7 linked regions of the Homo sapiens genome follow. The protein of the gene in region 4 interacts with the protein of the main gene of each other region in a pairwise test. Each region holds a gene or a part of one and is shown on either strand. Other genes may lie near its edges. The genes, in order: ZFTRAF1, NHSL2, SSU72, MAPK9, ZBTB25, CEP126 and XPO7.

Region 1 (4,776 bases), on a different chromosome or scaffold from region 4:
CGTTCTAGCAGGAACAGAGGGTGGAACCTGCTGCATTCCTGACACTGGCTGGCTCGAGACAGCCAATCAACGTGGTCACCAAGGAAAGCTAGTAGAATATGGTAGACTGAACCCAAGCTGGGGTGATGGCCAGCATGGGCCCAACCAGGGACACGCAGAAGGCAGCATGTGGGGGCCCACACCATCTGTGCCCAGATTCTCCAGGGAGCAGAGCAGGCCAGAGCCCAGGTCTCCAGGTCTGTGTTGACCTTCCAGGGGCACCACTCACAGCCGAGAGCCACCCGCCGGAGGTGTTCTTCGCAGCATTCAGGGAGGCCTGTGCCCACAGCACTCCTCGCTCAGCTGCTCTGTTCCCAGGGAAGTCACTGAACAGAGCCCCCAGGCCAGGGAGGGCCACCAGCCAGGGCAGCCCCAGCGCCTTCGGTCTCCATTACACCTGTTCAGCTCCCTGCCTCTGGCCGCCCAGAGCAGAACTCCACTCTGCACAGTGCAGGCCGGTTTGAACCAGCTAGGCTCAGAGGCCTGGTCACCAGGAGCTCCGGTCAGAAGCAGAGCCATCACTCTGTGCCGGGCCAGTCTAGATGGGGGATGCAGTGCACCAGGGACCAGTACCATGTGGCCCATCACCACCAGGTCCAGCTACAGCTCCAGCCCACCCACCAATGGGGAGACAAGGAGACTTCCCTGTTCCCCCGTGGCCTCACACCATTGGCTTGGCTTGTTGGAGTCTCCCTCGAGATCCAAGAAAAAGTTCTGGCCAAGCGCAGTGGCTCATGCCTGTAATCTCAGCACTTCAGAAGGCCGAGGCAGGCGGATCACCCAACGTCAGGAGTTCGAGACCAGCCTGGCCAACATGGCGAAACCCCGTCTCTACTAAAAAATACAAAAACAGCCGGGCATGGTGGCAGGCGCCTGTAATCCCAGCTACTCGGGAGGCTGAGGTAGGGAGAATTGCTTGAACTCGGGAGGCGGAGGTTGCAGTGAGCAGAGATCGTGGCACTTCACTCCAGCCTGGGTGACAGAGTGAGACTCCGTCTCAAAAAAAAGGAGAGTTCTTCCGCCTGGGAGGATCGAAGGTTGTGAGCCAGGAAAAAGGAGCTGGAGAGTGGGCACATCTTGGAAGCTGAGGCACTGCCAAAGCCAAGGAGTAACTGCTAACTCTGGGAGCCAGTGGCTCTGAAAAGTGCTCCCCTAGCTGGCCCTGGTGCCTGACACCCAGGAGGGTGGGTTAGAGCCAGTGCCCTCTCCCCACCCAGGCACACTGGGGTCCTCCCGACAAGGTCATGCCACAGCAAGAAGGACTTGGAGATCCAGAGTTTGGAGAAATGGCAACCTAGACTAGCCCTACACCACCTGCTACAAAAGTAGCTCCTCATCCAGGCCCCCAATTCAAACACAAGCAGGGAAACAAGGCCCCATTAGCTACTTCCAGCTCCTGTAAGTGTAAAGAAAGCTGACAGAGAACCTGCTTCATTTCTCACAGGGACTGGGGAGTTGAAAGAGAGGGAAAGACACAGGGAAGGTGGGGACACTGTACTCTGCCTCTGGGTGTCAACCAGTTTGTCCCTGCTGCTACCTGGGAAAGGGCATGTCAAACCCACCTGGGCCAGGTACCCTAACAGCCCTAGGCTGCTTAAGGGCTGAGTCCCACTGCCATGCGGATGTGAAGATGGGGGAGGAGGGGTGGGCCGGCTCCTGGAGCACTGGCTGCCTAGGAAGCCTGGCCTGGCCTGGGTGAGGTGGGCAGGAGCCTAGCGTGGGGCATGGCAAGTCCAGTTGGATGTGGGGTTTGGCTGGGACTGGAGAAGGTACCCAAACTGTGGGGCTTGTTGCAAATGGTTCATCCCGACAAACAGCAATCCCCTCTCCTTACTGTTCTTCAGGATGAACTGGAAATGGACCAAGAGAAAGGATTCTTCCACCCAGGAGGGTAGAAAAGGAGGCGTCCATAGGATGTTCAGGAGTGGAGGGACAAACTCGGGGGTGTGGCTGCCGGAAGAATGGGGAAGGAGCTCTCGAGCACAGGACTCTGAGCCCAGGGAGCTTGGGACCGGGTGGGTTGCGGGGAGCAGTTGCGGGCTAAGGATCAGTTTGAGGCTGTGGGTTGGGAGAGTGTTCAGGGGACCGTGGGGAAGTCTAGAAAAAAGAAGGGAGAGGTAAGCGGAAGACAAGCGATTCAGATCGGGAAGTACCGTGGATCAGAAAACAGAAAAGGGGGGTCCCGAGCGGAAAATAAAGCCCTGAGAGAAAGACAACGAGGAGCTTCGGAGCAGCCGCTGGAGCCCCGCTGGGCGAGGAAGTGGCTGTAAGGGCCAGAGAGGGTTCCCGGCCGCCGGGCCCCGCAGGCCTGGCCTCCGAGGAGACGCGGATCCTGGGGCCCCGCGGCGGGGGCTGCAGCCCCGGGCTGGGCCGGGTCGGGGTCGGCCGGCGGCCCTACCTGGTACACGGAGGCCTTGGGCAGGTCCAGGCACACGGTGCAGCACAGCACCGAGTAGAGCCGCTCCTCCAGTTTCCCGCTGCCGGCCGCCGCCGCCGCCGCCGCCGCCTCGGCCGCCTCGGCTGCCCGCAGCCGCTTCTTGGGCGGCGCGTCGGGGTCGCCGGCCGCCTCCTGCAGCTGTAGCTGCCGGGCGCCCGCCAAGCCCGCCTCGTCCGGGAGCCCAGGCCCCGCCGCCTCGCCCAGAGCCGCCGCCGCCGCCTGCCCGGCGGCCGCCCCGGGCCCGGCTCCGACCCCGACCCCGACCCCGGCCGGCACGGAGCCCGCGGGCCCCGCGGCCGGGCCGCCCCCGCCGGCCTCCTCGGCGCCGGACATAGCGGCCGGCCGGCCCGGCGGGCGGATGCCGGCGCGCTCCCCCGACTAGAAGTTAGGGGCGCCGCGCGCTCCCGCCGCTCTCCTGCCGCCGCCGCCGCGAACCCGCAGCCCCGCTCCCTGCGCCGCCGCCTCAGTGGGCCCGGCCCGCGCGTAGCCCCACAGCCGCCGCGGCCACCGACCCCGGCACGGCCGCCATCTTTGTTTTCGCTGTGCGCTTCCCCCCGCCCCGCCGCCACCACCCCCTCGTCTTCCCCGTCACGTGAGCCCCACGCGGGGCCAATGGGAGCGCCGCTTGGGGCAAGAAAGCGCAGGGACTAGAGCCAATGGGAGAGCGAGGGCCCCCGAAGGCCCGCCCCTGCAGAAGGTGGGCGGGGAGGGGGCGCGGCCTGCGAGAGTCGCGGAGGGACTCGCACCTGGGGGCAGGGAGGCCCACGCGAGCTGTGGCGCCGGCGCGGCACCCACGCTCCACGAGCCAGTGGCGGCCGCCGACCCCTACGGCGGGGTGTGCCTGTGTCTCTGTCCCCCAAGACTCAGGCTTGTGTTAGGGGCTCTCGCCCCCTTCCCCGCAGGGGAAGGACACAAGTGAAAAATCCCGCCGGCCACCCCTCTCTGTCGGGTGCGGGACCCCTTAGGTCTCCACAGGAGCAAGCGGAGAGACTTCCAGGAGAGGGGACTCCAGACCCCTAACCCACCGGAATCTAATCCTCTGCTCGTCCGAACCCCCTCTAACCCTGGGGTTGGAGACTGAAGGGGTCCACTGAGGAAAACGAAGGTATTAGGGAATAGGGCTGGCTTCCACAGGCCGGAGGTACACAGGAGGGCGAATCAGCTCTGGGAAGGATGTGCGTTTCTCGAAACGCCTGTGGTACAGCCCTCCCCTGCCTCCACCCTACTCTTCAGTTCTTGAAGGTCACTGCCCCAGAGGGCCACCTGCCAGGCCAGGCCAGGATATCTGGAACTCCACCATGTCCCTGGAGAGTAAGGGCCCAGGGCTATGTCTTCTCAGCCCAGGGGTCTTCCTGACAATAGTCAAAAGGAGGCCGGGCTGCATGAGACCCCATCCTAGTTCCAGCACATACCCTGTCAGGGTAACTGACTACTGTCCTGAGGGGCCTTAGGAAGCTCACTGAAAGATCCCTCAATCCCTCTCAAAAATGGGCAGTTTTCATATTCCTGCAAAATTCCTAAGATTTATTGGAGACTAGGCCTCTTCTCTGGATCCACAACCGTGTCCAGCCCAGAATCAGGACCCCCAAACGTGTCTGGGACCCTGTCCCTTTCATTCTGGTCTAGACAAGTCCCCACACGTGGCCAAAGGACAGCACCCAGACTCTGCCCCTGACCAGTCAATGTGCAGCAAACCCACTTCAGTAGGCAGAAGAGTCTACCCCTAGGGAGAAGGCGCCAGGAGCAGGCAGGTGGGAGGGAAAGTGTTCGGCAGGGCAGAAACCCTGCCTGGCTGTATCCAACTGTCACTCCCACTGGAGGCGCTGTGTATGCAGGGCCCGGCAGTAAGCCCAGCTGCCTACAGCCAAGGCCCAGCGACAGACATCCTCCTTCGGTAGCAGCAGCAGCCTGTCCTCCTCCAGCCGGCTCAGGAGGCCTGCCACACCCAGCATCGCCCCCCCCCACATCCCATAAGTGTTGGCCGTGAAGACAGCTACAATGAGGATGGTCACTGCGACCACCAACAGCATTGCCTGACCAGCCACAGAGCGGCCCTCAGGGCCGAGGTGGCCGCCAGCCACTGCCAGCACCATGCCTCCTCCCAGGAGCAGGTTGGCAGAGGAGCGGTCCCCATTCACCCAGTGGAAATCGAAGGCCAGAAGGGGAAGGCCGATGACGGTGGCCACCCAGGCTCCAGCAAGGCAGTCTTCGTGTGTGCTCAGCCCTGGGGCCAGCGTGGTGGTGGCAGCCAAGACCTGGAGCAGGAAGCCAGCAGCAGCCCCTCGACTTGCCTGTCAACA
Region 2 (3,987 bases), on a different chromosome or scaffold from region 4:
ACAGAAAGTAGAATGGTGGTTGGAGGGAGGAATCTGCGGGGAGGGAGAAGGAGGAGTTGTTGTTTACTGGGTACAGAGTTTCAGTTTTGCAAGATGAAAGGAGTTCGGGAGATTGGTTGCTTAACAATGTGAATGTGCTTAACACGAATGAACTGCACACTTAAAAATGGTCAAGATGGTAAATGTTATGGGTACTTTACCACAATTAAAACAAAAAGAGACAGAAAAAGAAAGGATGAGAAGCATTATGTATTATGTTTATGGTTCCAGGAAGAGCCAAAGAACTCAAACCACCCAAGAAAGTGAGCTCCCTTTCCTCCGGAAGGCACAAAAAGAGGCTGCTGGTGGCAACATATTCCGTTGTTTCAGATGGCTCCGAGCCTGCCATGGCACTTGAACTCAGTCTGGTGGGGTACTGGGTCCCATGTAGGGAACTAAATTCACTGCAGCCAATGAAAAGTACTGTACAGTGAGGTGGAGTAGTTCCCAAGACAGGATGCATGCTTGGCTAGGGATGTGGGATGCTGAAGTCCTAGGGTGCTAGAACCTAGTTTGATTTCATTATCTCAGCACTAGAGATTTAGAGGGGAGAGTGGCCTAAACTGGGCCTTGGAGATCTGCCTCGGGCTAGTCTTGATCTCAAGGGCAGTAAGGCCAGCCCGTGGTTCCTATTTAGAGTAACTCAAACCCTCAAAGGGTGCCCGCTACTGACTTGGGATCAGGATAATTATTCTGGGGCATCTGCTTCCATCTCTGGCACTCCATTCTCACCCTCATCTCTCCTGTGACTGAAGGAAAAAGCCAGCAGACAGTTTACTAACCCAGAGGGCTTGCCTCCCTTTCACTGTCAGCCTGAGGAGTTGAAGTCACCCTTTGACCAAGTGATTGCAGGTCATCGCCGGTGGCGGGACACTTGGTGTCTTCCTCCAGGGTGATGATGGGGCTGAGAGGCAGCCTTGGTTCTGCCACATAGGCCTCCATTTGAGCTGTGGGAGAAGTGAGAGGCAGGTACAGCACGCTGGGTTTTTTTGGTACGGGAGGTGGAATCTTGCCTTTCTTTTTCTCAGCTTCTTCCTGGCTCTGGAGGCTAATTCTTTCAGGCAGAACCCTCACCTTGGGGCCCTCGTCCTCTACACTTCCCTGGGGAGGCTGCTGTGTTCCTGAGAAGAAAGCATCAGAGGAACTGGCAAAAGGCGTGAAAACAAGAGATGAGGGTGCTGTTGACTCCCCTGGGCTTCTGCCATCTGGGAAGCTGGAGGGCTTTGGTTTCCGCACTACCGTGTAGCTGTCTTGAGGGAGTGGTCTCGCATGTTGAATTGAGCTCCTGGGGGGCATAGCCAAGGTTGGTGAAGTTAGTGCATACTCCTCAGGAACAGATGGTGGCTTGTGGACCAAGCTTGGAGGCCTCCGGGCCACCGGAGGCTTCTCAGCTACGGGAGGTTTTGTCTTTCTCTCTGGCAAGGTGAAGACTTCTTCTGCTCTGGGTTCCTCGGCATACTCAGGGCTCTCAATATCATCTTCCGGCTCAGACTTGCTGACCGACCTCAGGCGAACAGAACGTAGGTCGGACTGAGTAACCATAGGCATGATTGGCTGGTTGGGATTAGTTTTCTGGGCCAGCTTGACGCCAAAATTTGTCTCTGAGTGGTGCCGACTCACCTTAGTTTTGCTTCGGATGGAGATACTCATCCCAGACAGATCCAGGTTGGGTGAAGAGGTCAGTGGTAGGTCAAATGATAGCCGTGACTTGGGAAATTTCTCCATTGGTGACGTCGGGGGTAGTGATGACTTCCTCTCAGGTACCACTGGACGTACCCGGACACTGCTGCTTGGAGGGGGTAAGTGGCCCAGGGTCAGGGACATGGAAACAGTGGGTGTTGGTGTTTCCGACTGGCTGGAGTAGCCACTGGAGGGTGACATCAGTCCAGGGGGCCTTCCCGGGGATGATATCTCCCTGGCCTCCACTTCAATGGAGAGTTGGGAAGGTGTAGTGGCTCTGGAGGTGGAAGGTGAGGCAAGAGACTCTGAGCTGCCCTGAACTTGGGTGCACTCAATGACTGTGGTGCCAGTGGCAGTGCTGGAGCTGGACAGGGATTGGTAGGTGTCACCAGACTTCCAGTCAGTAAGATACCAGTGGTGGGAGAATTGTGTACTTTCTGGATCTTTGTGGTTTGGAATAGCTGGGTGACCCTGAGCATCTGGGTGGGACGAGTGATGTCCTTGATGTTCCAAGGAGAGGCAAAGGCTCTTGGGCCTCTGGTCCTTGGGTAGTGCTGACCCACCTTCAGGCAAGAGGCCTGGCTCATCTTTGACCAGTGAGACACTGCGTGTGGGTGGGGAAGGCTTCTTTTTGGCCTTCCTAAGTGAGATACTCTTGGACCTCTGCCTTCTGTGCTGGGCCTCTTGCTGGGCACTAAGGGAGGCAATGTTGTCAGCACTGTTACTGCCCTCAGAGCTCGTACTGGCAAAAGGCAGGGCACAGGCCTCATTGGCCTTCTGCTCCTCATCATAGTCCACATCTGTGGTGCCTGAGTCTGTGGGCACAGACAGTGACCGCTCCCGGAATCTGCTGGCCCCACCGGGGCCTGTCTCCAGCCTCGAGGTCCCACTGGTCAGAAGGCCAATCTTGGAGGGTCTTTCGGGCATGTGCCTTTGCTGAATAAGGCGCTCAGGGTAGCCAGCTGACCCACTGCATCCTGCTGGGTTATCACGAGCGACAAGGAGGGTAGCAGCCTCCTTAGGAACCAGAGGTGGGACTTTGTTTAGAGAGACCCAAGAATTCCCACAGGAAGGATTTTTCCCATTTTCATTGACTTGATTGCTCTGGCTGGTGGCACTTGGAGTCATGTAGGTAAAAGCATCTCCCTTCCAGGAAGTGGAGAAGGTTGATTCTGTAGGTCCATTGCAAGAACTGGGGACACTGTACACCATTCCCATGCTCTCCATGCCAGGAGGGTTTGGGCCACTCCGTGCCTGGTGAGGTTCGTCCGGCTCACTGGAAGGAGTTCTCAGTACTGGCGAGGTGAGACTTGGGAACCGAGCATCCTGACCAACTGCAACTCTTCCATGAACCCCTTCTGGAACTGAGTGACTGGGCCTGATGTCGGAGGTGGTAGAGTGGGCCACACTGCCTGCTGGGCTGTTGCTGTGACCTGGAGGAAATAAACACAGGACATGAGTGCTACAGCAAGGGATCTCCCACCAGCTGTTTTGAGACAGGAGCACCAACTTTTTGCCAAGAAGCATTTGCCAACAGCTTGGTCAGAATTCCTTGGTTCTTCCCTTCCATGGATGAAGATGCTGGGGAAATTGGGTCCTTGCCCATCACCCCACAGTGAGACATACGGTGCCCTTGAATGGTCCAGATGGCTGCCAAATACTTTCCAGCTTTGATTATTCCTCTTAGAGCTGAAGTGTCACGTGGGATTACCTTGCATTTTCCCCATACTTTCACCCCAGGCTCATGAAACCATCACAGACCTCAGCATTCATCCATCTAGAGATGAGAGTAGAGGCTTCCGAACTAAGGACGGCATGGTGTGACGTTTGGCTCCAGCAATGACTCTGGAGCATGCCCAAGATGCAAAGCTAAGAGTCTGGTTGCATTGTTCGCACCCATCACTTTTAGGCTTTGCAACATAAGAGGCTGAGGATAATCTACGGATGTGAGGAAACCGTTTGGATGTTCCAAATCCCCAAAGGTTTTCTCATACACACAAACAATTAATACTGTCATGTCATTATTATTATTATTATAACTACTACTGCTATGAGAATTTGTAACAATAGCCACCATTTATTGGACACTGACTATGTACCAGGCACATGGTAGGCAAGTTACATACAATAACGCTAATCTTCATGCTAATTCCACCATGTCAGTATCATTATCCCCACTTTATAGATGAAGAAGCTGAGGCTCAGAGAGGTTATGTCACTTGGCCAAGGTCTCCTGGTTAGTAAGCGGAAAGACCAGGGCTCTTACCC
Region 3 (3,987 bases), on a different chromosome or scaffold from region 4:
CCCTGAGCCTGTCTATTGAAGGCCCCGCCTCACCCGCCAGCGGCTCCTGTCCTCTCGCCTTGCTCTGAGCCTTTGCCTCGTGGCACTCACTGGCACCGTGGTTTTGCTGCCGGAATTCAGGTGGGATCTTGCGTCCCTGTGAGCTCATGGCTTGGTCTGTGGTCCCTTTGGTCCTCCTCAGGTCCTCACAGCCTCTGGTGGGGCTTGCAGGTCTAGCCCTCTGGGCGGGGCCTCACCTCGCATCTCCTCGCCAGGAGATCCAGAAGGGTGGCTGCTCGCTCATCCTTGTGTAGCTGAGGAGGCTGCTGCTTTGTCCCTGAAGTAGACATTTCTCCTTAACTGAATGATTCTTAATTTATTGCCTCATCTACATAAATAGTTGAGAATGACGTAAAGGAGGAAAGGACTTAGAACTGTCCAGGCCTCAGGGAAGAGCTGGCCTTGAACGTCCATGAGCTCTGCCAGCCAGTGACACCAGTCCCATCCCCAGGAGCCCCCACGGCCTCACCCCCGGCTGTGTCTTGCTCAGGGATGTGCAGGGAGGGTGATCCCTGTGCCCACCATGAAGCTGCCACTGGACCCCTGCACCCTGACCCCGGTTCCTCTCCGTGAGCCGGTCCCTGCACCTGCCCCTCTGCATGTGGCTGCACACAACAAGGTCAGGCCGTCTTGAGCTCTTTTTTTTCTTTTCTTTTTGAGACGGTGTCTTGCTCTTGTTGCCCAGGCTGGAGTGCAGTGTCACGATCTCAGCTCACTGCAAGCTCCGCCTCCCAGGTTCAAGCTTCTCCTGCCTCAGCCTCCCGAGTAGCTGGGATTACAGGTGTGAGCCACCGCGCCCGGCCTTTTTTTTTTTTTTTTTTTTTTTTGTTGTTGTTGTTGTTTTCCAGAAGGAGTTTTACTCTGTCGCCCAGGCCGAAGTGCCGTGGTGTGATCTCGGCTCACTGCAACCTCCGCCGCCCGGGTTGAAGCAACTCTCGTGCCTCAGCCTCCTGAGTAGCTGTAGCTGAGATTACAGGTGTGTGCCGCCCCACCTGGCTAACTTTTGTATTTTTAGTAGAGACGGGGTTTCACCATCTTGGCCAGGCTGGTCTCAAACACCTGACCTCAGGTGATCCACCCGCCTCGGCCTCTCGATGTGCTGGGATGACAGGTGTGAGTCGCCACGCCCGGCCTCCTAGAATGCTGGGATGACAGGCGTGAGCCGCCGCACCCGGCCTCGAGCTCTTCTTTCCGCAGACTTTGATTCTCAGCGGCTGAAGGACTAAGTTCCCCAGAGATGGACCCGGGTGTCATAGCTGCTTCCAGGGGCCTCGGGGACACAGGCGGGACTCCAATGTGCAGGAGGAGACACACGTCAGGGGTGGGTGTGTGACTTCCACGCTGCTGACAGTGACCCAAGGATGCAGCTCAGGGTCAGATGCCGTTAGATCAACCACTTCAATGTATTATAAAACTATTATAAAAACTATTTTTGCTACCCAGGAAGGTAGCTGAGTTCACTTAGAATTCCTGTCAGCTAGGCTGTTTATCTGAAAGTGGTTACTTGTCCCTGACCATCTGGAATGGCTCAAATGAGCTCCTGCAGACCACAGAGCTCATCTTTGGGAACCCAGTCTCTCTTTTTGGGGAAGTGAGCCCCTTCCTTGGGAACCCCTGAGGCCAGGCATGGCCACTGTGGATGGTGGGAGGATGCCCCACCCTGAGGACCCCAGAGGCTCCTGTGGCCCCTTCCTGGGACTGCTGGGGCCGGTGTGTGTCAGCGTTCACCCCAAGGCCCCCTTTCAGCTGGGCTGGACGCCAAGTGCCTTCAGGCCTCATCCTGCCCTCCACCATCCCATAGTCAGTGAGGCTGTGGCATCTCCCTCCTCGACTGTCTTGCCCTCTTGGTTTTTGTATCAGCGTTTTCCAGGCTGATTGCTGCTGAACCTTCTGTTTTTTTTTCTTTTTCTTTTTGAGACAGTCTTGCTCTGTTGACCAGGCTGGAGTGCAGTGGCATGATCTTGGCTCACTGCAACCTCAGCCTCCCGATTAGCTGGGATTGCAGGCATGTGCCACTATGTCCGTCTAATTTTTGTATTTTTAGTAGAGACGGGGTTTTACCGTGTTAGCCAGGATGGTCTCGGTCTCCTGACCTCGTGATCCGCCCACCTCGGCCTCCGAAAGTGCTGGGATTACAGGCATAAGCCACTGCGCCCGGCCTGGAGCTTCCTTTCTTTGGGTTTTCCGATGTTCTTGACTCTGTTGTAGCTGAGCTAGACTGGGGACTGGGTTTCCGGGTTTGCTTTGTCTCTGCTGAAGGGCTGAGGTTTCAGAGCCAGCATGCACTGCACAGGGAGCAGAGGGAGGAAGAAGGATCCGACTGCGGAGACACAGTGACTGAGGCCAAGGGCAGCTTGGGCCGGGCCAGCAGTGAGGGGAGAGGTCTGGGTAGAAGGTGTCATGCTGGGCGGGGGCGGGGGGTGTCCTGCGGGCCTTGGGTCTTTTTGCCGAGTTGGGGGACAGCGAGGAGCAAGCACCTGCCATCGCCCACTTTGTTTTCTGTGGGACCTCCTAGGACAGTGAGGCCCCTGCCTCACCAGGGCATGGCCCACTCCGCTGTCCAGGCCTTCGTCCCGGCTGCCTCTGCTGTGGGGCAGGGAAGGGGCTGGGTGTCCAGGACACAGGCGCTTCCAGGCTTCATACACAGATGCCTTTTCTCTGACGTTCCTTAACTCCCATGTGTAGCTATACACAGAATGGGATTTTACATATGCTGGACAGAAATAAGAGAATCAAGCCCCGGCCAGAAAGATTCCAGAACTGCAAAGACCTGTTTGATCTGATCCTCACTTGCGAAGAGAGAGTGTATGACCAGGTGGTGGAAGGTGAGGAGGCGGCTGCGTGCTGGGCTGGGCTCCAGCAGCTCTCACAGGGTCTGGGGATGCCTGCAGGGCCCCACCATGACCAGTACAGCCCGTCTAGAGTGGCGGGGGCCGGGGAGCAGACCTGAGTGTGAAGCACCCTGGAAGGCAGGCAGGGCCGCTGGTCGCTGAACCACCCATGTGCTGGCTGCAGCCTCATGGGCTTCAAGGGGCCTCTTTTCTCCTTGGTGTTTTTTTGTTTTGTTTTTTGAGACAGAGTCGTGCTCTGTCGCCAGGCTGGAGTGCAGTGGTACAATCTAGGCTCACTGCAACCTCTGCCTCCCGGGTTCAAGTGATTCTCCTGCCTCAGCCTCCCGAGTAGCTGGGACTACAGGCGTGTGCCACCACACCCAGCTGATTTTTGTATTTTTAGTAGAGACGGGGTTTCACCATGTTGGCCAGGCTGGTCTTGAACTCCTGTCCTCAAGTGATCCGCCCGCCTCAGCCTCCCAAAGTGCTGGGATCACAGGCGAGAGCCACCGCGCCAGGCCCATTTTTCAAGCGGATGGACCCTGTGTGGAGCTGGCGGTGGAGCAGGGAGGGCTGGTCTTTAGTGACGGGGAAGGGTCGCAATGCCAGTCACGGTTCACCCCAGGACTGGCTGGTGGGTGGGGAGTCCCAGACCAGCTTGTGCTGAGTTGGAGATTTGCTCAGGTTTCCTCGAACCATCAGCCGCCTTCGGTTTGAGGCTCATTCATTGTGCTCCCCAAACTGCAGAGTCCAGAAACCACTGGGGCTGGGCTGGGCCTGCAGCCGGCAGAGCTGGGGACTCAGCCACATTGACTGCCTGTTCCCTGGTTTTGGAGCCTCTGACGTCTGTGTCACCTTGTCCCAATCAGATCTGAATTCCAGAGAACAGGAGACCTGCCAGCCTGTGCACGTGGTCAATGTGGACATCCAGGACAACCACGAGGAGGCCACCCTGGGGGCGTTTCTCATCTGTGAGCTCTGCCAGTGTGTAAGTACCCGGCTGGGCGCCGCGCTGGGCAGAGGTTGTGACAGAGGGGAGTGACCGAGGCCGTGACAGAGGGGAGTGGCCGAGGCCGTGACAGAGGGGGTGGCCGAGGCCGTGACAGAGGGGAGTGGC
Region 4 (3,987 bases):
GCGGGTCTTTTGGAAGTATAACATTTTGGAAGAACTGAGTTCATGTACCAGTTCCCTAGGTTATTTCATGGTGATGTAAGTTCATTTTTCTAAGACATGCCTCAGTGAGCACTTTTTTAAGCTGCTGTTGATGCTATTTTTTTCTCACTTGCATTCTCTTGTATAGCGAGTACAGTTTCAGTGTCACTTTCCCACATGTAATCCTAATTATCCCAAGCCTAACAAGCACCCTGTGGAATAGGCAAAGCTGGTAATGTCTGCATTGAACAAATAAGGAAACAGACCCCAAGGAAGCCTGACTTTCCTGACACACTGAGTGTTTAATGCAGAGTTGAGTCTGAAACCCAGGTCACGCACTTTGAAAGGAAATAAAATGCATTACCTAGGGATCGCAGTGATGGTTGGGAAGAGTCAGTTCCAAGTAAAATAGAGCATCATTTGAAAGCTGTCGCTGGGCTCAGTCTAAGCCCAGTTGCTTGGTTCCCAGCTGTAAACTGAGGAGGTCAGATAGGTCTCTCCACAGGTCCCTTGAGATCCTCTGTTCTTTAGAGAGCTGTGAATGAATCTAAGGTAGCATTAGTATGAAAACTGATTTCAATTTGCTTATGTAATGTTTATCTAATTTCGTGTTTAATCATTTTTGCTATAGGTATTCTTAGTTATAAGATAAACTTTATTTTGAACTAGAGTGGGAAGGTGTGTAGACTTCATTGTGTTGATTTAATAAACTGTGATCATAGTTTATGAAGATGCAGAGTGTGAGAGTTTTAAAAAATAGTGTAACTTGGAAACCCAAACCTTATTTGAATATTATTTCAAAATTCCGCTGCTGATCCAGTGGGGTGGCCTAGTCGATAGGTTTAAATATTATTCAAGTGATGCTGCCGCATGTACTGTGAATACAAGGTACTTCAGTTGTATTTTCCTCAAGAAACTCCTTAGATATTGATCAGTGGAATAAAGTTATTGAGCAGCTGGGAACACCATCAGCAGAGTTCATGAAGAAACTTCAGCCAACTGTGAGGAATTATGTCGAAAACAGACCAAAGTATCCTGGAATCAAATTTGAAGAACTCTTTCCAGATTGGATATTCCCATCAGAATCTGAGCGAGACAAAATAAAAAGTAAGATATCCTTTTTTTCTTATACTTGTGTTTTGTAATTCAGGTGGTGCTTTCACTCTTTCATGTTTGTATTCTAAAAACCTGTGTTTTGGGAGAGAAAGTCATTTTAGGCCTGAAGTCTGAGGTACGAAGGCACTGAGGAGAGAAAGCTTAAAGGTCTAGAAGCTTTATCCTCTATAAGACGGCTTAATTGAAGCCTTTGGCCAAAATAAAAATAATCAAATCAGTCTGAAAGAATCTTATGTTACAGTTACAGCAACTGGAATTCAAAAAGTTTTCAGGTAAGAAGAACACTTAATGCAGATTCTAGAGTCAGAAGCGATGTGACAGTTGTTCGATGAAAAAGGTCCTTCCTCCCCACCTTCTCCTGCACCCTTTACTACAGTGTGATTGTTTAAGGAAAAAGAAAAGATTTGATTCTGTCCGCATGAAGGTAAACTGTGCCTTAATCAGAAAAGCCCCAGTCTTTGCTTATTCAGGTTGTGAACTTTAATTGACAAAACCTAGGTGAGCCTTATATTTAACTAAGTTATTGAACTTGTTTTTCTTTTTCCTAAATACCAATCTGTAGATTAAAAAAAAAAGTGTAAGTTGCCAGCACTGTATACAGCTAGGCCAGCCAGAAGCATCTGTGAGTGTTTTATCCTGTGGGAATGTGAGATTGTTGTGTGGTTTGAAAAGTCTGTTCTAATTTCATTTCGATGTGACTTAGAGAAAAATACTCCCCCGTGCCTCATGCCCACACTCTGGGCAGTGCCACCCGCAGCTCGGCAATTGCCACCTTCCTTGCTGTGGTTTCCCAGCCTTGGGCCCTGCCCAGACATTGGTCTGAGGCTGCCTGGTGCTCTTCCCCACCACCCTGGGAGCCCAGGTTTCTCTTCCCCTTGCAGATCCAGAGGCGTAAAACTACATTTGGAAACCTGGTTTGTCATGAAAGTGGACATTTGACTTTTTCTTAAAAATGTTTGGGTTATGGCTGGGTGCGGCGGCTCACGCCTGTAATCCCAGCACTTTGGGAGGCTGAGGCAGGCGGATCACGAGGTCAAGAGATCGAGACCATCCTGCCTAACACAGTGAAACCCTGTCTCTACTAAAAAAATACAAAAAATTATCCGGGCATGGTGGCAGACGCCTGTAGTCCCAGCTGCTTGGGAGGCTGAGGTAGGAGAATGGCGTGAACCCGGGAGGTGGAACTTGCAGTGAGCCAAGATTGCGCCACTGCATTGGGCGACAGAGCGAGACTCCGTCTCCGAAAAAAAAAAAAAAAATTTTGGGTTATATTCATCTTGAACCTATCAAACATTTCTCAAAATTAATATATCTTTGTTCTATCTGTGTTGTCATATTTAGTTCTTTATTGTATGATTCTGTTTGTTTCATATTAACAGCATTAATTTAATATTTGTTGTCACCCTAGCAAGTCAAGCCAGAGATCTGTTATCAAAAATGTTAGTGATTGATCCTGACAAGCGGATCTCTGTAGACGAAGCTCTGCGTCACCCATACATCACTGTTTGGTATGACCCCGCCGAAGCAGAAGCCGTGAGTATCTGTTTTGAAAAGATTTATATAGAGAGGCCAGGCTTATATTTCCTTGGATCTTGTCTGTCCGTCCAGAGTGGCTACATATGGGTAGCAAGTTCTCCATTTGGGGGCTCCCAGTTACAGAAAGGCCAAGTGTTGTCTGAGACCTGGGTCGCTTGCTCTTTTGCTGCTGGAGCCCCAGCTCAGAGTACCTCGGGAATGAACTTCCGCTTTGGTGCTACCAGTCTCCATTTTGCAAATGCTGCTGTGAGCTCATAGTTTATTAAGCATCTATTCTGTGCCATTGGCTTTGGTTACATCCTCTTGTTTAGGCCACTTAACCAGAGAGGCTGAGCAACTTGCTGAAAAATCACACGTCTGTTTATCCTTCCCTAAAGGCATTGTAGCTCCTGGTTCCCCCGCTGGAGGAGCTCCACTCTGAGTTTGGTGCTCACGTGCGTGTTTCTGTGTCAGCACTGGTGTGAGTGAGCTTTAGCTGTGAGGGAAATCACTGCGTAGTGGCAGGCTTCCTTCATGCCATGAGTGAAATACATGTTTATGTCATGGCCTGTGGTTTTGCCATCAGTTTAAACATTGTTTTATATAAAAAGAATCCAATTTATAAGCAGACTTTTATAACAGTCCATTTATGAGTTGGACATTGGATTTGGGAGTTCTCCCATGAAGAAAATGTAAAATTTGTTCTAAGAAACAACAGTACCTTCCATAGCTGCCAGCACAGTGCCTTGTCCATAATGGGTCTCTGGGAAACAGCCTGTGATGATGAGTTTCTAATGACATCTGGGCAGATGTCTGCGTTTTGAGGTCAGGTGATTATTAAGAGGAACATAATAACTCTTCTTTGGTTAACTTTTTCATAATTATTTTGATTCTAAAGTTGATATAATATCACATGACAAATCTTTATTAAACCACGTGTTGAATTAAACTAAATCCATATCATAAATAGACTAGAAGTCTTCCAAGCAATTTTACCTTTTTTAGTGCCTCATTTTTTTTTGAGGCATTACTGTTGACTTTACATATGATTTAATTTTTAGCCACCACCTCAAATTTATGATGCCCAGTTGGAAGAAAGAGAACATGCAATTGAAGAATGGAAAGGTAAAGATGGAGCTTATTTTGATCCTTCCTTTTGACATTTCTTCCAATCCTGTAGAGCAGAGGCTTTTCATTTTGTGACATTTCCCTTCAGGAAGGGGCAAGAAACCCTGCGACCCACTTAGCCTCTTTCTCCCCAGTTTCCAGTAGAAAATGAACTTGAAGAGAACAGAGTTAGAGAGGAACATTTATGAATTTCTTATCATTTGCTTCAAG
Region 5 (3,987 bases), on a different chromosome or scaffold from region 4:
TGTAATGGGCCTCACCCCCATGTTTCTCTTCAGTGTTTTGCACCATTGCCATCTCCTTTCTGCAAGGTCATTGCCTTTCCTCAATGACGATGTTTTCTTTTTTCTCCTCCTCTGTCTTATTTTGTCTTTTCTGTTTTCCAAAGATTCATTCTTAGCTTTTTTCCCTCTTATTTCATTCTACTTTTTAGTCTACTTTATTATTTTCATACTTGGTTACTTCAGCCTTGTCGTTTCAGAGGCCTCTTCTCCCTCTCTGGCTCTGCTCTCTCTAGAGCCCTGTCCTGCTTCTTGTCCCCGCTGATCACTAAACATTTCTACTTAGATACCTGGTAGACACTTGGAGCTCAGAGTGTCTGAAGTGAAACCCCTATTCTTCTTCTTCTTTTTTTTTTTTTTGAGGTGGGGTCTCAGAACCTCTTATCAAGACGGTTTCTGTACTTCTTCTCTAATGTTCTGGGACTCTGCCTTTATATCAACACCTAGCACATGGCAGTTACTCTGAAAATGTAATCTGAAGGAATGGATGAATTCTTCCAATTACCCAAGCTGGAATTCTGAGACTCACCTTTGATTTGATCTCTGTGGTGACAAGTCATGTCAGTTTTGTGTCTGATGTATCTCTTGTATTCCTTCCTTCATTCCCACTGCGATTACTTTGATACCATAGTAGGCTCCTAGCCAGTCTTTCTCCATGCCTTTTCCCTTGCTAATATTTTTTATATGTTGCTGTTAGAGCAGTCTTTACTCACGCCTAATGATGGTGATGATGATAATGCCTAGTATTTATTAGGCACTAACTGTGGGCCCACTGTTTCTAAGTGCATTATATCATTAAATTCAAATAACCTATAAGTTAGATACTGTCATTGTCCATATTTTATAAGTGAAATGGAGGCCCAGAGAGTTAAGTGTCTTGCCAAGACCACGCAGCTAGTAAATGGCAGAGCTAAAATTTTAAGCTGTCTGATTTTAGTTCAAGCTTTAACTACCACGCTCTGTTCTCCCTCCCACAGAGTAAGTTAACTGATCATGCTGTTCTTACTCAAACATCTTACATAGTTCACTTCAAACACGACACTACTTTTTAGTCTTATATTCTGTATGCTTTTTGAACTGACCACATTTCATTATTTCTGTTACTTTTTTTTTCTATGCCAAGCTGAATCCTTCTGTTATCTAACTATTCATATTCTTCCCAGTAATTTTATTCATTTTATTTTTTCTGCCTGGCCTTGTTTCCCATCAAGTTGCCTGTGTTTATCTCCCTCTGATAGCATGTTCTCTAACTGCTCTGTGCTACTGAATGCATTTATTTCATATTATAATTATGGTTTGATGTTTTATCTTTCCTGTGAGCCTGTAATCTTGAGTGTAGCATCTTGTCATTTTTTTCTGTCTCCACGCCTTGTACAATGCAGGCTTTTACACATTTTTTCTTTATTAAATTGCTCTTCAAAAATATCTGTTGAATAAGTGAAGAATTTAACTGTTACCAACAGACCATTAACCATAAGATTCCTGTATGGGTGGCTTATTAGTGTGCTATGTCTCATTTCCCTATGGTTCAGTAGTTCAATATAATGGGAAGAACTGGTGAAAATGTTTATGATCCGAGGGTTTGGTTTTGTTTTTTTTTTTTGAGACAACTTATCAGGCTAGTTTAAGATGCTTCAATATGAACCATTTCATTGATTCTAAGACACGTTTTTCACATGCTGAAATTGTCAATACAGATTTTTAGTTTGTTAGGCCGGGCACGGTGGCTCATGCCTTTAGGAGGCTGAGGTGGGCAGATCACCTGAGGTCAGGAGTTTGAGACCAGCCTGGCCAACATGGTGAACTCCCGTCTCTACTAAAAATACAAAAATTAGCTGGGCATGGTGGCGGGCACCTGTAATGCCAGCTACTTGGGAGGCTGAGGCAGGAGAATCGCTTAAACCCAGGAGGCGGAGGTTGCAGTAAGCCGAGATGGAGCCGTTGCACTCCAGCCTGGTCAACAAGAGCAAAACTCCGTCTCAAATAATAATAATAATAATAATAATATAACTTGGGGATTATTCCACATCAGTACATTAAATATGTAGTTTTAATAGAGTCTGCCTTTTTTTTTTTTTTTTTTTTTTGAGATAGGGTCTTGCTCTGTCACCCAGGGTGAAGTGCAGTGGCATGATCATGGCTTACTGTAGCCTCAATCTTCCTGGCTAAAGCTATCCTCCTGTCACATCCACCCAAGTAGCTGGGACTAAAGCATGCACCACCGTGCCTGGCTAATTTTTGACACATAGGAAGCACTATAAAATGTTAGCTATATTTATTATATTACTGATCACTTAGCTGTCTGCTGCCCAAGCCACTGCCAATCTTTAGACGGCTAACCCTGCATTACATCACTGACCTCCTTAGACCTTGGTCTGGCTGGCTGGTGTGGAAACCTCATTCTCTTTTTCAGTGTCTGCTCTTTCAAAGGATGTTCTCCTGGCCACCCAATGATGCCCTTTATACTACAGCTACCTTCTGCCTAAAGTACCAGGGCTCTCTCCACAGTAGGGTAGAGAAGATGATGTACAGTCTGCCACCTGCCTGAAACCAGGGCACTTCTGAATGTTTTTGCTGCTTATACTCGGCTTCTTGGCCAGAATTCTGCATGTTCTTCCTCATATAGGCTTCCCCGCAGTTGTTCCACCTTGCCTTTTACTTCCTTTGGGAACCTACATTATAATATGCGTCTGAATCCAGTTGAGATCAGTTCTTTCTTTTGTGTGTGTGTGTGTGTTTTTGAGACAGAGTCTCACTGTTGCCCAGGCTGGAGTGCAGTGGTGTGATCACAGCTCACTGCAGCCTTGACCTCCCAGTCTTAAGTGATCCTCCTGCCTCAGCCCCTCAAGTAGTTGGGAGTACAGGTGCATGCCACCATACCTAGCTAATTGTTTTATTTTTTGTGGAGATGACGTTTCACTATATTGCTCAGGTTGGTCTCCAATACCTGGGCTCAAGCAACCCTCCTGCCTCATCCTCCCAAGGTGCTGGGATTACAGGCATGAGCCACTGCGCCAGCTTAAGTTCTTTCTCAGGAGGCTCTTGGGCCACAAGTAAATTGGGGATGTGGCTTGACATCTATTTTAAGAGTTCCTGAGCTACTGTGATGATAAGTCCCCCAAACATTTGATGAGAGTTGGGAAGCCAGTATCCCCTGAGCACCAGAGGATCCCTGAGGAGGAGTGACATCTCTAGCTCAGCCAGGATACCGTGTTATGTTATTAACATTTATAGCTAACATCGAATAGCAGTTTCCATTACAACATGATTTTCACATAAGTTATTTAACTCTGAGGCAGGAATCAGTATCTCATTTTCATTTTTCTAATGAGGAAACAAGATTAGAAACATTGTGTTCACATAGATGGAAAAGGACAGGTCTGTCTTCATGTGTCACTCATACCAAGCTATCTTCTTACCAGATGAAAAAGGGTCATATTTTATGGTTCAGCAGAGTTTATATCAGTTGTCATAATGGAGGAATTTAGTGTTAGCCGTGTTTGCAGTGAAAGTAATAGGATTGAAAACTTGAATAATTTCATTTAAATTTAGATCTCCTTGTTACTCTGTAGGTTTGTGTGAACTGTAGACAATTTTGTATTAATAAAAAATAATGCGTATATACATACACACCTATCTACATTTATCTTGTCCTTTTTTTCAGAACCACAATGGACACTGCCAGCCATAGCCTTGTTCTTCTCCAGCAGCTGAACATGCAGCGAGAATTTGGTTTTCTGTGTGATTGCACAGTTGCAATTGGAGATGTTTACTTCAAAGCCCACAGAGCAGTGCTTGCTGCTTTTTCTAACTATTTCAAGATGATATTTATTCACCAAACAAGGTAAGGATGTGTTTTTGTAAATAAGAATTTTTAATATTGTGATTTATATAAGCTTTATTATAGTATCATTTTGGAAATTCTTTGTTACGGAGTCACACTAAGAAGTA
Region 6 (3,987 bases), on a different chromosome or scaffold from region 4:
GCAGACCATATGCCTTTGAACTGTTTTATACCTTCAGGTTATAACTTTGCTAAACATGCCTGGCCAGCCTCAAAAAAAGAAGAAAGTAAAATCCCTGTACATGATGATTCTAAAACTAAGCAAGGTAAGCCACAAAGAGGTAGAGCAAAAATAATTAGAAAACCAGGATCTGCAAAAGTCCAATCAGGCTTTATATGTACAAACAGAAAAGGCGCTGTCATTCAACCACAGTCTGCAAGCAAAGTCAACATATTTACACAAGCTCAGGGAAAATTAATTATACCTTGTCCTCCTCCTCAATCTACATCAAATATTAGAAGTGGTAAAAATATACAAGTGTCTCAGTGTCAACCAGTAACTCCTGAAAATCCTCAAAACATTATTACACATAACTCTTTTAATTCAAAACATGTGCTTCCAACAGAACACAGTTTGAATCAGTGGAATCAGGAAAGTAGTTCTCCACTCTCAAATGCTTGTTCTGACCTAGTCACTGTGATACCATCACTGCCATCATATTGTTCTTCAGAGTGCCAAACTTTCGCAAAAATAAATCATTCAAATGGCACTCAAGCAGTTGCCCGGCAAGATGCGACATTATATTGCACCCAAAGAAGTCCTGTTTGTGAAGAAAGTTATCCGTCTGTGACTCTAAGAACTGCTGAAGAAGAATCAGTTCCCTTATGGAAAAGAGGTCCTAATGTCCTGCATCAAAATAAGAGGGCTACAGGTAAGAATAAATTTATAGCTTTTTATAGATAAAATGTACACCTTTGTTAAAGTCATGTGAAATTGTTCCTATTTATGTATGGCCATACATACTACATAAATATTAATATTAAACAATAGCTTTATAGAAATAACTTACCTCCAGGCCAAGCACAGTGGCTTACACCTGTAATCCCAGCACTTTGGGAGGCCCAGGCGGGCGGATCACTTGAGGCCAGGAGTTCAAGACCAGCCTGGCTAACATAGCGAAATCCCATCTCTACTAATAGAAAAGTTAGCCCGGCATGGTGGTGCGTGCCTATAGTCCCAGCTACTCGGGAGGCTAAGGAAGAAGAATTGCTTGAACCTGGGAGGTAGAGGTTGCAGTGAGCCGAGATCATGTCACTGCACTCCAGCCTGATGACAGAGCAAGACTCTGTCTGAAAAAAAAAAAGAAAGAAGTAACTTACCTCCTGTAATATTGTGATTTTTGGCCAGGCACGGTGGCTCATGGCTGTAATCCCAGCACTTTGGGAGGCCAAGGCACGCGGATTTACTTGAAGTTGGAAGTTCGAGACCAGCCTGGCCAACGTGACGAAACCCTGTCTCTACAAAAATACAAAAATTAGCCGGGCATGGTGGCGCGTGCCTGTAATCCCTGCTGCCTGGGAGGAGGCAGGAGAATTGCTTGAACCCAGAGCCCAGGAGGAGGAGGTTTCAGTGAGCCAAGGTGGTGCACCACTGCACTCCAGCCTGGGCAACAGAGCCAGACTCTATCTAAAAAAAAAAAACAACAACAACATTGTGACGTTAGTAGCTGAATCCTTTTAAGAGAATGACCCAACCAGTGCTCAACTGAAATTAGAAACTTTTGCCAGCCTCCATTTTTTTCCATGACTTTTCCTGTTAGTTTAAGAGGAAGGACAAGGAATAGGATCTGATTCTTGTCCCATATTATTCTGTCATTACTATTGTAGTCAAATTTTCCAACAAAGTAAGCACAGTGAAAAATATTGTTTAAATTATTATAAACAAGTGAATACATGTAGTTATATTTATTTTTCTTTAAAACTTTTGTTAAATTGAGTTGCTATAAACTAATATTAATTAGATATACCTAATTCTCCCATTCTCTTTCCCAAAGTGTGGTAGCTCTGCTTTTATCTGCTATGACTATTGGTTTTTGTGAGAGCAAAAAAATGATATCATTGTCTTGAAATATTTTTGAAAATTAATTCTCTATAGAATGCCATTGCCCTTACTAGCTGGTCGACTCTCATAAAACTTCTTTCCTTCTATGAAGGAATAAACTAGAAAGCAATATATTTTCCTGCCAATAGGAAACAGTTGCCTATTGAGAAATAGTTAGGACTGGAGTCTGGAGGCAATCAGAAAAACAACTCTTGTTTTTCCAAAGGTATGAATAAATATTGATATATAATGAGAGTTTAAAATTTAATATTCAAAGTCATCTTCAATTAAACCATGAGTTTTTAAGGCCAAGGGACATTTGTGTAATTCATCACAGTATCCCCAGATCCTAACAGTGCCTGGCACTTAGTAATCACCCAGACTCTACTTGAATTGAATGGATAGAAGCCACATTAGCAGAAGGGAAGCTAAATGCAGACACTATAATCTAAAAATCTTCATTACTTGTCTACAAAAATCTAGATTTTAAAAAATTGTTTCTCTCACTAAAATTATGATTTTTTTATCCAGTCATTTCAGAATGTAACTTTAGCTTTCACAACACTTCAAAAAAATGAAGGTATCGTACAGATTAAATATTCTAAAATAAATAATGATAGTTACCCTTTTTGAGTTTGTAGCTTGTACCAGTCACAGTACTGTTTTATACTTACTGTCTCATTTAAACCTTGTAATAATGCTGAGAAATAAATATTTTTAAGACACTGTTTTGCAAAGAAGTAAGCAGAATTATCCAAGGTCAAGAGCTAGTAAATAGCAGAATTGGTATTTTGATCCAGATCTCTATGGTTCCAAGTCCTGTGCTTTTTCTACTAAAATCATATAGTAAATATAGTGATAAAGCAAATATCATATATCACACTCTGCTAATTAGGAAAAATATTAGGAAACTTATAGTTTCCCAATAGCTTATGTACAAAAGGGTAACATATTAAAATTATCTGATTCTCTGATAAAGGAATGGGATACATTTTATCTGGAGAAACCAATATTTTCCTGACATTTAGTCAAAGGAGGTAGTTCTCTCTGGGACATTCGTATAAGGGACATTGGAAAATGTAATGAATTTTAACATTCTTAAATGTTCTTAAATATTCACACTGTTGTAAATATCTATACCTATTAATACAGCGATTATACTTAGAAAATATAACAGTACTAACAATACTGAATATTTTGTATGTTCAGTCATTTAAGCTTTTTTTTCCAAAACTGTTTAAATATAAAATGCTTCAAGTGAACTCTTTGTTAATACTGGATTACAGTTCAGTGAGCATTTGTGGGATTTTTTTTCCTACTCTCTTATTTGCAGTTCATTTTATTTTTATACCCTTATGCATCCAGAGTTGACGATTGTGGAGAGCATCTTGTTCTCAATTAGCATTTCCAGAACACTCTAGCATAACTCTCTAGGAAAAACTCTTCCAATTAGATCCAAGCCATTCGACTATACCACCTCCTGATGTCTCCAGTTATTTCCCCCCTAAAAGATGACTTTGATATTTGGTTCACAGTCTTCATTTCCATACAGAGTCTTTGCCATCATATTGGATAGTTCAGCTTTTATATGGATGAGCAAACATCCTGATCCCTCTCACTCCTTTTTCATCTCTAATAACTTTCTATACAATTCTGCCTCAAATACCCTTTCCCTTTGTTATATTCTGGACCTCATCAACATTCATAACTCCTCTACTTCTTTTCTTTATTTCAGCTTTTATTTTAGATATAGAGGGTACATGTGGATGTTTGTTACATGGGGATATTGCATGATGCTAAGGTTTGGGGTATGGATCCTATTACCCAGGTAGTAAGCAAACTCACTCACTCCTCTACTTAAGCACATTCTCCTCTCTTTTCCCTACTCTTACTCCTACCATTCTTCTACCCTACTGGGCTTCTTTAGTCCAGTATTTTCTCTACTTTCTCATTCCAATTCATCATCTCTTTCTTTCTTTTTTTTTTTTTTTTTTTTTGAGATGGGGTCTCACTTTGTTGACCAGGCTAGGGCGCAGTGGCGTGATCATGGCTCAGTGCAGCCTGGGACTCCTGGACTCAAGCAATGCT
Region 7 (3,987 bases), on a different chromosome or scaffold from region 4:
GGGAGAAAAAAATCAAACTTACTTATGTGTGTTTAATTATGTTTAGTTGCCCTTCCTTTCATGTTTTTTTTAACATATCTAAAGCTGGTAAGTTATCGCAAAGAGATGAAGACAACGCTCAGTGAACAGTGGTGATGAAGAAGATTAAGAAGGATCAGATGTTAGTTTTAATAGTGCTAGCTGGTGTTCAGGAGCTCGAGAGGAAAAGGAAGGAAAGAATATGATTTATATATCGAATATGCTATTTAATATGAATTATATTAGTTTTACCATAAATAATGGAAATGAAGACTGATTCCAGGATTTTGCTGGAATTACTACGTTGTTGTGTTGGGTCTTATTATTTACTGGGCTTTGCATTATGACTGTACTAGGAGAATGTACTATTTGCAAAGTAGTCATAGTTTGTTTTAAATTCCAGGCACAGTAATTAAATATTGACTACCAGTGTAACTCCAGGGAGTTGTGAAGAATCATTACAACTTGTCAGGTTAAATTTTAGCAGGGTGCAAAAAGTCGGCCTGATTATAGCAAAAGTGATGGTTGTTTTTTCAGCTTTTAACAATATGCAAGGAAATGATAAGTGCTATGGGTAGTCCATTTTGAAAAGGGAGTTCCGTACAACTTTTGAGAATTTTAAATGGAAAAAACATAACTTTTCTAACTTTTTTCCAGTTCGACTAATACCAGAATGCTTAGTGTGTGCAAGGCCCTTTCTGTGCTGGGCACTTCAGAGGATTCAGAATGAGAAAGACACTGGAGCCAGACTGCTGAAATATCCAATTCTGATGCTCTTTTGGCAGGCTTCAGGAGCACACACGTAGATACAAGAAAGAATACATTGATTTCAAAACATGCTACATCTGTGTTGGGTGATAAGCAATAACTATATCCCATCACCCACTCCCACCCTGATTATACCTCTTTCGTGGGTTTATACAAATAATATGTGTGTATTTTATTTCATTATTTTACTCCTATTCAACACCACACTGGAAATGTCTGTATTTAAAACATATATATCTATATATTTACTTGATTACTCTGACTTTAGTATATTTCCTGAGAAGCCTTGAGAAAAATTAAGGGATGTATATATACGTGTGGGATCATTCAAACACTTAACACAGAAAAAACAAAATACAGTACAGTGATGGAAGAATCTCTAATTTAGATGAAGGTATAGAAAGAAGTATCAGGAAGATCCCTGTTCTATATCTTACAGAGAAATTAGCTTCCATTTGACCCAGAAATTGATGTTCATAACCACCAGCTGTATTTTCTTTTTTCTTGGTTGGGTTTTGAAAGCAATATTGTACCACAGCCTTTCGAGGTGGGAAAGTTGCCAGTTTAAACCAATAAGCTAATGTCTCTCTGTAGGTACAACTACTGAGGCTACTTTGCCCACTTCAGTATGTGCAAGGAAGATAGTGTTTTGAAACTGCATCTTTTTAAAACACCTAACATTATCTCACATTTTCTCAGGGTTAGGAATCTGGGAGTGGCTTAACTAGATGGTTTTGGTTCAGGGTCTCATTTGCAGTCAAACTCTCAGCTGGGGCTCCGGGCTGCAGTCAATCTCAGGGCTTGACTTGAGGATAGAGAATTTTCTTTAGGTTTACACACAGCGGGCCTGGTCAGGCCTCAGTTCCTCACTGGCTGTTGTCTGGAGGCTGCAGTTCTTTACCAATGGGCCTCTCCTAGTGCATCATTTTTAAGGACTTCATTAAATTCTGTAATGATATATGCTGTGTATAAGTGACCCATCTTTGTTATTTTTTTCAAAAACTTTTTATTGAAATATATACCTGCAGACAGGTACAGAAATCATATGTGTTCAGCTTGATGAATTTTCACAAAGTGAATACTCCTTACTAACCAGCACCCAAATCAAGTCAGTATTATCGGTGCCCCAGAAGTCCCCTGATACCATCTCAACAGCTACCTGTAGCCCCCCTCCCCCCCCCACCCCACTAACTACTATCCTGTCATTTTATTTTTAAATCTGCTTTTAGAACTCAAGCTGAGTAACCTGAGAGTTTTAGCTTCAAAGCCAGGGGGAGAAGCAGTACAGAGCAGTGATTATACAGCTTTGGGGGGATTTATTTCATAATATGATGGAAGCTATGTTACTGCTCTCTGGTGGGGGTGGGGAGAGTGTGCCTACACAAAATTTTACCCACAATTTTAGGCCATTCATGAACCTTGATAACTAGAGTTTAAATATATGTTTCTTTTTAGATGAAAATGCTCACAACATTTTATTGAGAAACTGATTTACAAGTATTTCTCTTTTGACTTATTTGAAAAGCAAGTTCAGGACCACGATAAATGTTCCTGGAGAGTTACATGCAAGCTGAATTTTTAAATATTGAAATAAATTCTTGAGGATGATTAATGGTGACCACTTAAGCATCTACTAATATCCCATTTTTGTTACTGTGCAGACACATAGAAGGAAATACAAGATGTGATATTCTACTTCCAGGGCCTTACATTGAATTGAGCATCACAACAAGCCTGGTCATTGAGTTGTGAATTTGTAGTGAGACTGGTTTTGTCGACATGTCCCTGAATGGGGGGCAGTCACTACCCCGTTATCTTTTCCCCCATTCCAATACATGTCTGGAATACATTCATTCCTAACATTTATAGTGACTCATTACTAGGAAATTCTCAATGGAATGGGATTGGTACCCAGGAGGCATATCAAAATCTTGGGGGAGGGAGAGAGTTGTAAAAAACCTAGATCCTAAGTATTTCTGATATTTGCTTCAATGGCTGTTCACCCCTTCGCACATGTGTGCATGCACACAAGGACACACACACACTCCTACTGCCATAAAATGGGAAGGATGTATTTAAGAGAAGGCAGAATTGGAAACTTCATGCTAGCATTAATTGATATCATTTAATGCTCACCGCAGCAATGTAACATCGGTATAGAGATAATAGTAATAGAATTTTCCTTGAAATAAGCTGATTAAAAGACCTGGTATCCCTGGAAGACTGGAGAACTCGCTGTTGGAAGATTTAGATGATGTTCATGGTGGTGGTTATTGTAAGACTTACTGGAGTGTGACTTGGTTGGTCATAGGGAAAGGGGGATACCAGTATTAACTGAGTGTCTGTTATATGCCAGGCACCATGCTAAGCCTTTTATAGTGTTATGCCATTTAATTGGGAAACTCGTTTGGTCTCTGAGCCTGGATTAAGTGATCTGTGAAGTCCCTTGTACTTCAAGCATTCTGGATGGGATTTCCAGTTGTCATCCTTGTATTCTCTCCCCAATATAGCACCGTGTTCTCAATTCATATGTACATGTTTGTAAAATTCCTTAAAATATTTATGCTCAAACCAACATTTCCATTTTATCTATCTTAAATATATCTTCCTCTTCTTTACGCCTAATTTCTTAAACTCCCAGAGTTTTTTTCTGTAAGATCTAGTCATCTGTAGCACTTCTCACAAATTGAGCTCTCTTATGCCCCAAACAGTAACGAAAGAGGTCTCTTAGTTGGACAATAAGCAGTGAAAGATATTTCTTATGGGACAAGAAATTAACATTATTAGTCAAATGTTGATGCCGGTAGGCTGAGAAATGATTCTCACTTAAAAGCCCCTGGGTTTTAAACCTCTCTTAGAAAAACATTAGTTAGATGAAAAAAAAAATCAAAATATTTTCCTCTGGAAAACAATGTTCCTCTGAAAACAAGCAGATTATTAAAATATCCCTTGTACTACTTCAGGAAATTGTAATCTTATAACTGTAGTGGCCTTTTAGCTTTTAAATATATGAACTTGAGTTGGACACATGCTGATCTCATTGGTACTTTGCATGATAAGAAATTATGATATTTACAATGTGCAGTCTCAGAAAGAACTGAGAGTTTTGCTAGACATTTGCCCTAAAGTTTGAGTCAATTTATGGTTTAAAGGGGTGTATTTAAGGCTAGAAAAGGGAAATGAAGGGTTTTCTTAGGATTT

The links.
Region 1: the proteins of MAPK9 (region 4) and ZFTRAF1 interact in a two-hybrid assay, tested with the Homo sapiens proteins (one large-scale study listed by BioGRID).
Region 2: the proteins of MAPK9 (region 4) and NHSL2 interact in binary tests that used the Homo sapiens proteins (3 or more experiments, as listed by UniProt).
Region 3: the proteins of MAPK9 (region 4) and SSU72 interact in a two-hybrid assay, tested with the Homo sapiens proteins (one large-scale study listed by BioGRID and IntAct).
Region 5: the proteins of MAPK9 (region 4) and ZBTB25 interact in a two-hybrid assay, tested with the Homo sapiens proteins (one large-scale study listed by BioGRID and IntAct).
Region 6: the proteins of MAPK9 (region 4) and CEP126 interact in a two-hybrid assay, tested with the Homo sapiens proteins (one large-scale study listed by BioGRID and IntAct).
Region 7: the proteins of MAPK9 (region 4) and XPO7 interact in a two-hybrid assay, tested with the Homo sapiens proteins (one large-scale study listed by BioGRID and IntAct).

What each region holds. Positions count from the first base shown.
Region 1 is NC_000008.11:144,459,846-144,464,621, forward strand, and holds the start of ZFTRAF1 (zinc finger TRAF-type-containing protein 1), read right to left. Parts: upstream 3,027-4,776; 5' UTR 2,810-3,026; coding exon 2,438-2,809; intron 1-2,437. Other genes in the region: TMEM276-ZFTRAF1 (uncharacterized protein LOC157542 isoform 1 precursor), read right to left, coding at 4,615-4,767; TMEM276 (transmembrane protein 276 precursor), read right to left, coding at 4,282-4,767.
Region 2 is NC_000023.11:72,137,606-72,141,592, reverse strand, and holds part of NHSL2 (NHS-like protein 2), read right to left. Parts: intron 3,153-3,987; coding exon 822-3,152; coding exon of another isoform or gene 817-821; exon of another isoform or gene 231-816; intron 1-230.
Region 3 is NC_000001.11:1,543,740-1,547,726, reverse strand, and holds part of SSU72 (RNA polymerase II subunit A C-terminal domain phosphatase SSU72), read left to right. Parts: intron 1-2,724; coding exon 2,725-2,864; intron 2,865-3,739; coding exon 3,740-3,858; intron 3,859-3,987. UniProt on the Homo sapiens protein: Protein phosphatase that catalyzes the dephosphorylation of the C-terminal domain of RNA polymerase II. Plays a role in RNA processing and termination. Plays a role in pre-mRNA polyadenylation via its interaction with SYMPK.
Region 4 is NC_000005.10:180,239,711-180,243,697, reverse strand, and holds part of MAPK9 (mitogen-activated protein kinase 9), read left to right. Parts: intron 1-942; coding exon 943-1,125; intron 1,126-2,542; coding exon 2,543-2,667; intron 2,668-3,710; coding exon 3,711-3,774; intron 3,775-3,987. UniProt on the Homo sapiens protein: Serine/threonine-protein kinase involved in various processes such as cell proliferation, differentiation, migration, transformation and programmed cell death.
Region 5 is NC_000014.9:64,490,254-64,494,240, reverse strand, and holds part of ZBTB25 (zinc finger and BTB domain-containing protein 25), read left to right. Parts: intron 1-3,700; coding exon of another isoform or gene 3,701-3,707; coding exon 3,708-3,880; intron 3,881-3,987. UniProt on the Homo sapiens protein: May be involved in transcriptional regulation.
Region 6 is NC_000011.10:101,963,151-101,967,137, forward strand, and holds part of CEP126 (centrosomal protein of 126 kDa), read left to right. Parts: coding exon 1-730; intron 731-3,987. UniProt on the Homo sapiens protein: Participates in cytokinesis. Necessary for microtubules and mitotic spindle organization. Involved in primary cilium formation.
Region 7 is NC_000008.11:21,922,490-21,926,476, forward strand, and holds part of XPO7 (exportin-7), read left to right. Parts: intron 1-3,987.